Homo sapiens: one gene and its partner. The protein of the gene in region 1 purifies or fractionates together with the protein of each later gene. This does not show direct contact. Each region holds a gene or a part of one and is shown on either strand. Other genes may lie near its edges. The genes, in order: LYSMD4 and MCOLN1.

Region 1 (3,847 bases):
AGTGAATTAAAAATGTCCCCTACCCCAAATCAGTTACAATAACAGCAGTTGCTGAATAATAATGGAAATGATTGATTTGATTGAGATCTGTTGGCTGTATTCACTTTCTAGTTTAAGTGGACTTAAGTGTTAAAAGTTTGGAGTTCATCTCTGATGCTTTTGGAAAGTTTTCAAACATTAGTTTGAGGGAGGGGTTACCCTTTGACTTACATTCTCCCTGCTTCTTAAATCTTCGTGTTTGATTATGAGAGGAGTTTGTCATGAACTTTGTTACTTGATAAAACTCACAGCATTATTCCTTTTTCCTGACAGTTAAGTACAGTAACTGTAAGTCACTTTTATTTAATAAGTTTACATGCCCCACAGTGTTTCTGGGAAAGAAAATGCCGAGGGCATATCTGTCAACTTTATTACAGGTAAACTGGATTTTGAGTGTGTCTGCAGAGCTGGCTGAGGCTGTGTGTTTGGTGAATGCTAACATCTGGCAGCCACTGAGTTCTGGCATGAGGGGGAAGGCAGGCAGATGGGGGCACTATTGCCTCAAAAGTGAAAGGTGGAAAAGGCTGCAACATTCCTTTCAGTGCCATGGTGGTTTCGCCCAAAGCGATTTGTTGCAGTCACACTTTAAACAGTTTAAGAAAGATCTGTTTTTCAAAACTGATCTTAAATTGTTCAAACCTGTAAATCTTTAGGAATATCTGATTACTAAACTATATATTGAGGTTGAGTGAAAGCCAAAAAAACAAAATTTCAGCCTAAACTAACTTTGTGTACAGCTGCAGTTTTCCAGTCTTCATCAGATTCGTCAGTGAAGTGGGCTTGAATCATCACCCAGAAAGATTAAGAGCCACTTTTTGGAAAGTTATTTTTAAGGAGCTCCGCATATTTTATGATGTTTATCTTCGTGCCTTCCTAGGTTGCAGATATCAAGAAAGTCAACAACTTCATCAGAGAACAAGACTTATATGCTTTGAAATCTGTTAAGATTCCAGTGAGAAACCATGGGATCCTGATGGAGACCCACAAAGAACTGAAACCCCTTCTGAGCCCGTCTTCCGAGACCACAGTGACCGTGGAACTGCCAGAGGCAGACAGAGCAGGCGCGGGCACCGGTGCCCAGGCCGGCCAACTGATGGGCTTCTTTAAGGGGATTGACCAGGATATTGAGCGTGCAGTGCAGTCAGAAATCTTTCTACATGAAAGTTACTGCATGGACACCTCCCATCAGCCACTGCTCCCGGCACCTCCGAAGACGCCTATGGATGGTGCAGATTGTGGCATTCAGTGGTGGAATGCTGTTTTCATCATGCTGCTGATTGGTATTGTCTTGCCTGTCTTTTATTTGGTCTACTTTAAAATACAAGCTAGTGGTGAGACCCCTAATAGCTTGAACACAACTGTCATCCCCAATGGCTCGATGGCAATGGGTACAGTTCCAGGGCAAGCCCCCAGACTAGCAGTTGCAGTGCCAGCCGTCACTTCTGCAGACAGCCAGTTCAGTCAGACCACCCAAGCGGGGAGCTAAGCTTTGTTTTTAAAGACTAGGCCCAGCTTTAGCAATTGGCTGTTGATGTGCCTCAGCTGTCACTGGCGATGTCCTAGGGGTGCTGCATTTTGCTTCCGGGGAAGGATGGACACTTTTCAGAAGTCACTGCAGTATTCCCAATTGCACTGGCCCTGGGCATGGCCTTACCCAGTCTAAGCTGGCAGGATCTAAAACAGCAGCGACCTCGGCCCCTATCCAGAGAGGTGCAGCAAGAGAGCCATTTCCCTGTGACATTTAGTGGACTGGCCAGTTCATAGCAGCACTGTGAGGACCCCCAAGTTGGACGTGCTCGGAGGGAAAGATTTATGGCCTCTGTCGAGGGACCTGCAGCGTGAGAGCCAGTGGCATCTGCGCGGCTTGCCTGGCTCTTGCTGTATCCTCACTTCCTGTGGAGCGGGGATTGGCTCTGAGAAGGAGTGTTCTCTGTCTGCCTGGCAAAGGTGCTGTGGAATAGGCTTGGCATGCCACCCTGTTTTAGAGAGTGACAGTTACAGTTGTAACAAGCCTACTTCATATTGGCCCCCTCAGTTAGCCTTTTTGAGGCAATGCCATTTCTAGAGTTGAAAAAGCCCTGGACCCAAACTGCGGCACTGTTGAATAAAGGGCAGTCCTACTCCTGTCCTTTTAGAGTGGCTTAGTGTGACACACAGGCATCTCCCAGGCCAAGCACACACAGGCTGCGCCCAGTTCCGCAGGAGCCGTCCCACAGCGTGGCTCTCTGGATTCTCCCACTTGTCCTCCTTGGAAGGAGCTCTTGCTGGCCAGTGTTTGGAGGGGAGGATGAGTGCCTGTCACTGAGGCCTCACTATGGTTGGCGTCTGAAGCTGGGCGGTCGTCAGGCCTGTGCTGAGAGCCGCAGCCCCTGTGCACACCTAACACAGGGCGCTCCCCCTGCTGCTTCCCTGGCTCAGTTCTTCGGAGCTCCAGAGTGAGAAGGCCGCTTCGTCCTTTTTCTCTGGGTGATGCCCTTAGAATAACACTATATGCAATGTAACTCACAATGTTCCAGGACCAAAGACTTGATGGAGGGGCTAGAGGCGACCCTTGTTGTAAAAGGCGATCAGAACACCTGAGGGAGGAAGGGGCTTGCAGTTTTCCCAGCCCTTCTCGCTGCCAAGGCAGCAGTGGTGCTGTGGATGGGCTGGGGACTGCGGGACAGAGCCTGCTACTACTTGGGAGTTGGTGCTGCCCTGTGGCATGGAGGGGTGGGAGGGGCTGAGATGGCTGCTGGCCCGGCCTCCAAGAGTTCTGGACAGGAGGCAGACACTGCCCAGATGCTCGGTGGAGGGACAGTGATGGCCTTTGACTCATGAGGCCTGGAGAAAAGTATCAAAGGTCTCACCATGTAAGAGTGATTTCCGATTTCTCTCCTTTCAGTTGTGTGAAAAAACAGCTGGCCTGGGTTCCATTAGCAAATTAAATCATCTTCAATCTTAAATTAGAAACCAGAATGATCTTCAGGATAAAAAGAACTTCTGAATCTCTGCAATAGGAAATGTTTCGATCATGCAAGTGCTTTCCCAGCCAAATGTCTGTGCTCTCTGTGTCACTGAGGGCCACAGGTTCCTCTAACATCTGTCACTGTCACTTCACCAGGCAGGCCTTGGAGTTCCATGACAAAATCACTTTTGTCAGACAAAGAATGTATCCTTTACTTTTCTCAAATGGAATAAAATTATTTCTTCTGTGGAGGAAAATTGATTCCCCCTTTTTATTTAATTTTTTTTTGGAGACAGTCTCACTCCTTCCCCCAGGCTGGAGTGCAGTGGTGCGATCTGGGCTCACTGCAACCTCCACCTCCCGGGTTCAAGCGATTCTCCTGCCTCAGCCTCCTGAGTAGCTGGGATTGCTATCACACATCACCATGCCTGGCTGATTTTTGCATTTTTAGTAGAGATGGGGTTTAGCCATGTTGGCCAGGCTGATTTCGAACTCCTGACCTCAGATAATCTGCCCACCTCAGCCTCCCTAAGTGCTAGGATTACAGACGTGAGCCACTGCACCTGCCTCAACCTTTTAAAATTTGGGGATTGATAATTTAGCGTTAAAAGATGTGGGATGCTGCTGGAGAAGATGGAGGTGTCTGTCAGGAGTGAGGACTGTGCCTGTTCCCTGCACCTGGCCACCAACTTGGGGCTTGTACTGTGCCCGAGGTTACTCAGACAGGTGCAGGACAAAGTGGTGACCAGTGCTCTAGGGATGATTGATCACTGATTGATCTGTATACAGGCTTTAATATTGCTTTATTAGGTGTATATAAGAAATAACCACGATACTTCCTATTCCACATTTTGCTATGTT
Region 2 (3,814 bases), on another chromosome or scaffold:
TGGTGCAAGTCAGAGGCTAAATTTGCAATTGTACTTCATTTGAATTAAAATTTTTAAAAAATTGTTGTTTTGTCTTTGAAGCAGAGTCTCGGTCTCTCGCCCACGTTGGAGTGCAGTGGCTTGATCTCGGCTCACTGCAACCTCTACGTCCCAGGTTCAAGCAATTCTACTGCCTCAGCCTCCGGAGTAGCTGGGATTACAGGTGCCTGCCACCACGTCCGCTAATTTTTTGTATTTTTAGTAGAGATGGGGTTTTGCCATGTTGGCCAGGCTGGTCTCGAACTCCTAACCTCAGGTGATCCACCCCCACCCCCCCTCGGCCTCCCAAAGGGCTGGGATTACAGGCGTGAGTCACCGTGCCCAGCCGGAATTAAAATCAAAATTTAAATAGCTGCATAGGGCTAGAGACTAGTGATGGATAGAACATTCTAGAAGCTCTCCTGGATCTCCTGTCATACCAATCTAAAGCAGGGGTCCCTCTGCAACCTTCCACTCTTCCTTCATACCTGTTACAAGTAGGTCATTGGTCATGGGATGTCTGTTCCTGTGCCATCCTTGCCCACAGGCCTTGGACGGATCATGCACACCTGATTTTCCTCCATGCCCAGAACCCAGCACAGATCTTGGCCCTTAGATATATCTGCTGAAAGAATCCTATCTACCTGCCACTTCCGCATCCTGCTCTGTCCCCTGACCCTTGCAGCTTGCAGGGAAACCACTGTTCCCAGCCACCCTACTAAACTGAGGACAGAGGGGTTAGGAGCACGGCTTCTGGAATCAGACAGCCCTGGGTTGAGCCCAGTTTTACTGCTCAGAAGCTAACCTGGGCCGGGCACAGTGGCTCACGCCCGTAATCCCAGCACTTTGGGAGCCTGAGGTGGGCGGATCACAAGGTCAGGAGTTTGAGACCAGCCTGGTCAACATGGTGAAACCCCATCTCTACTAAAAATACAAAAATTAGCCAGGCATGGTGGCGTGTGCCTATAATCCCAGCTACTCAGTAGGCTGAGGCAGGAGAATCGCTTGAACCCGGGAGGCAGAGGTTGCAGTGAGCCGAGATTGCACCACTGCACTCCAGCCTGGGTGACACAGCGAGACTCCGTCTCAAAAAAAATAAATAAATAAAGAAGCTAACCTTGGGCAGGGTCAGAGGGAGTCGGGGGCATGGCTGGGGGCTGGGGTCAGGGTTGGGTTTTTAGAGGTCCGCCATAGGAATGGGGCCAGCTGAGGATCACCATGTTAATGGCAACGTCCCAGGGTCAATGACAAGGTCATTGAAACTGTATGACTTAGCTGGGTTCAGTGGCTCATGCCTGAAATCCCAGCACCTTGGGAGGCCAAGGCAGGTGGATCACCTGAGGTCAGGAGTTCGAGACCAGCCTGGCCAACGTGGTGAAACCCCATCTCTAGTAAAAATACAAAAATTAGCCAGGTGTGGTGGCACGTGCAAGTAATCCCAGCTACTCAGGAGGCTGAGGCACAAGGATCGCTTCAACTCAGAAGGTGGAGGTTGCAGTGAGCCGAGATCATGCCATTGCACTCCAGCCTGGGCCACAGGGTAAGATTCCATTTCAAAAAAAAAATAATAATAATAGGCTGGGTGTGGTGGCTTACGCCTGTAATCCCAGCACTTTGGGAGGCCAAAGTGGGAGGATCACTTGACCTCAGGAGTTTGAAACCAGCCTGGGTAACACAGTGAGACCCTTGTCTCTAATAAAATAAAGAACAATACTTTAATAATAAAATAAAATAGGCCGGGCGTGGTGGCTCACGCCTGTAATCCCAACACTTTGGGAGGCCAAGGCAGTAGATCTCCTGAGGCCAGGAGTTTGAGACCAGCCTGACCAATGCGGTGAAATGCCATCTCTACTAAAAATACAAAAATTAGCTGGACGTGGTGGCGTGTGCCTGTAGTCCCAGCTACTCAGGAGGCTGAGACAGAATTGCTTGAACCCGGGAGGTGGAGGTTGCAGTGAGTCAAGATCGCACCACTGCACTCCACCCTGGGTGACAGAGCAAGACTCCGTCTCAAATAAACAAATAAATAAATAAACTCTATGACTCGGTTGCCCTGTTGGCAAAGACTGACTCAGGCCCCCTCCTGGCCCAAGCCCACCTTGACATCCCCCTGCGCCCCCCAGTTCTGAACCACCCTCTTTTTGGTTTCATAGAGTCTCCCATATTCTCTCCTGGGTCTTCTCTGTTCACCCTGCGGTGTCCCCAAGACCCCCTCATGGCAGACTCCAGGGCACCCAGAGCCCGAGCTCAGGGCTGGGTGCATGCGGCTGACCTTGATGGTGTCGTAGGCGCCGGTGATGAGCGCGATGAAGAGGCTGAGCACCATGTAGATGAAGAGGCTGATGAAGGAGTAAAGGTAGAGCTGGGAGAAGAGCCACACCAGGCTGCTGCGGCCCTGCTGCGCCTGCATGGCGGCGAACGTCACAAACATGTCGTCCCCATTGATGAGCGAGAACAGGCACTCAGACACCATGGAGAGTGAGCGGAACTGCCAGAGGGGCGGCGGGGTCAGAGGGAGCCAAGGCATGGCCAGGAACCGGGGGCTGGGGTCAGGCTGGGGTCCCATGCAAATGGCTAGGAGCTGGTGGCTGGGGCCCCACATGAATGGCCGGGTCCCGGGCTGCGGTCACCATGTGAATGGTCGGGTTCCAGGCTAGGGCCCCTGTGAATGGCCGGGTCCCAGGCTGGGGTCCCACGTGAATGGCCGGGACCCAGGCTGGGGTCCCACGTGAATGGCCGGGTCCCAGGCTGGGGTCACTATGTGAATGGCCAGGTCCCAGGCTGGGGTCCCATGTGAATGGCCGGGACCACGGGTCAATGACAGGGCCACAGGGCCGACCTAGGGTCTGGGTAGATAGAGCAGGAGGGGAGTAATTCAGGTCGAAATAGGGTCATCAACAACTGTGACAACAATAATGGCACAGGGTCAGTGTCAGGGTCACCAAGGACCACAGGGGACAGTGGACAGACTCCCAGCAGTCACCAAGGGGTCATCTGGGGGTCACAGTGTCAATGACAAGGTCACAGGGTCAATGTCAGGGACATCAGGGGTTAGATGTACCTTCACATGATAGGGCCCCAGCACGATCCAGCCACAGAAGCAGTAGCCCAGGTAGATGACAGCCACGCAGCAGCAGAAGCGCATGACGCTGGGCAGGGCCACCCGCAGTGTGGCGATGAGGATCTGGGTTGGGGCAGAGGGAGCCTCGTTGAGGGTGTGGCCACAACTCAGGTCAGCTGTGGGCACCCAGATGGGGGTGGGAGGGGCGGGGCCTTGCCGAGGGCACAGCCGGTGTGGTCATGGGAGCCAGTGGGTGCCTAGAGGGGGCGTGGCCACGTCTGAGGGGGTCCGAGGGCAACGCACGGCTAGACTCAGCTGGGTGGGCACAAAGGAGCAGGCTCCCGGGGCCCCGCGCAGGTGCAGTGACAGATATATCTGGTGTGGGCAGGTAGGAGGAGGAGGCTTGCAAGGGGCCATTGGCCGGGGCTGGTGAGGGCTGCGTGTGTAGGGATTTATTTGGAGGGTGTGGAGTAACCATGTGGAAGGCCCAGCTGCATGTGCAAAACTCACATTGTAGTTGTGGAAGAAGGTCAGGTAGCGGATCACGCCCACCCACACCAGCAGCGTCGAGGTGCCCAGGAGGATGCTGCAGACGTCGTAGCTCGCCAAGTTCTGCGGGTGGGAGCTGCGTCAACCTATCTGGCCCAGCCCTTCCTTTGGGGGGCCTGGGGGAGGATATGGCCCCGGATAGGCACTGACAGCAGGGATGGGACCTGGGGCCCAGGGTGTTGGCAG

Evidence for each region.
Region 2: the proteins of LYSMD4 (region 1) and MCOLN1 fractionate together in Homo sapiens (co-fractionation; one large-scale study listed by BioGRID). This does not show direct contact.

Annotation. Positions count from the first base shown.
Region 1 is NC_000015.10:99,726,801-99,730,647, reverse strand, and holds the end of LYSMD4 (lysM and putative peptidoglycan-binding domain-containing protein 4), read left to right. Parts: intron 1-916; coding exon 917-1,525; 3' UTR 1,526-3,243; downstream 3,244-3,847.
Region 2 is NC_000019.10:7,528,978-7,532,791, reverse strand, and holds part of MCOLN1 (mucolipin-1), read right to left. Parts: intron 3,692-3,814; coding exon 3,590-3,691; intron 3,203-3,589; coding exon 3,080-3,202; intron 2,507-3,079; coding exon 2,291-2,506; intron 1-2,290. UniProt on the Homo sapiens protein: Nonselective cation channel probably playing a role in the regulation of membrane trafficking events and of metal homeostasis. Acts as a Ca(2+)-permeable cation channel with inwardly rectifying activity.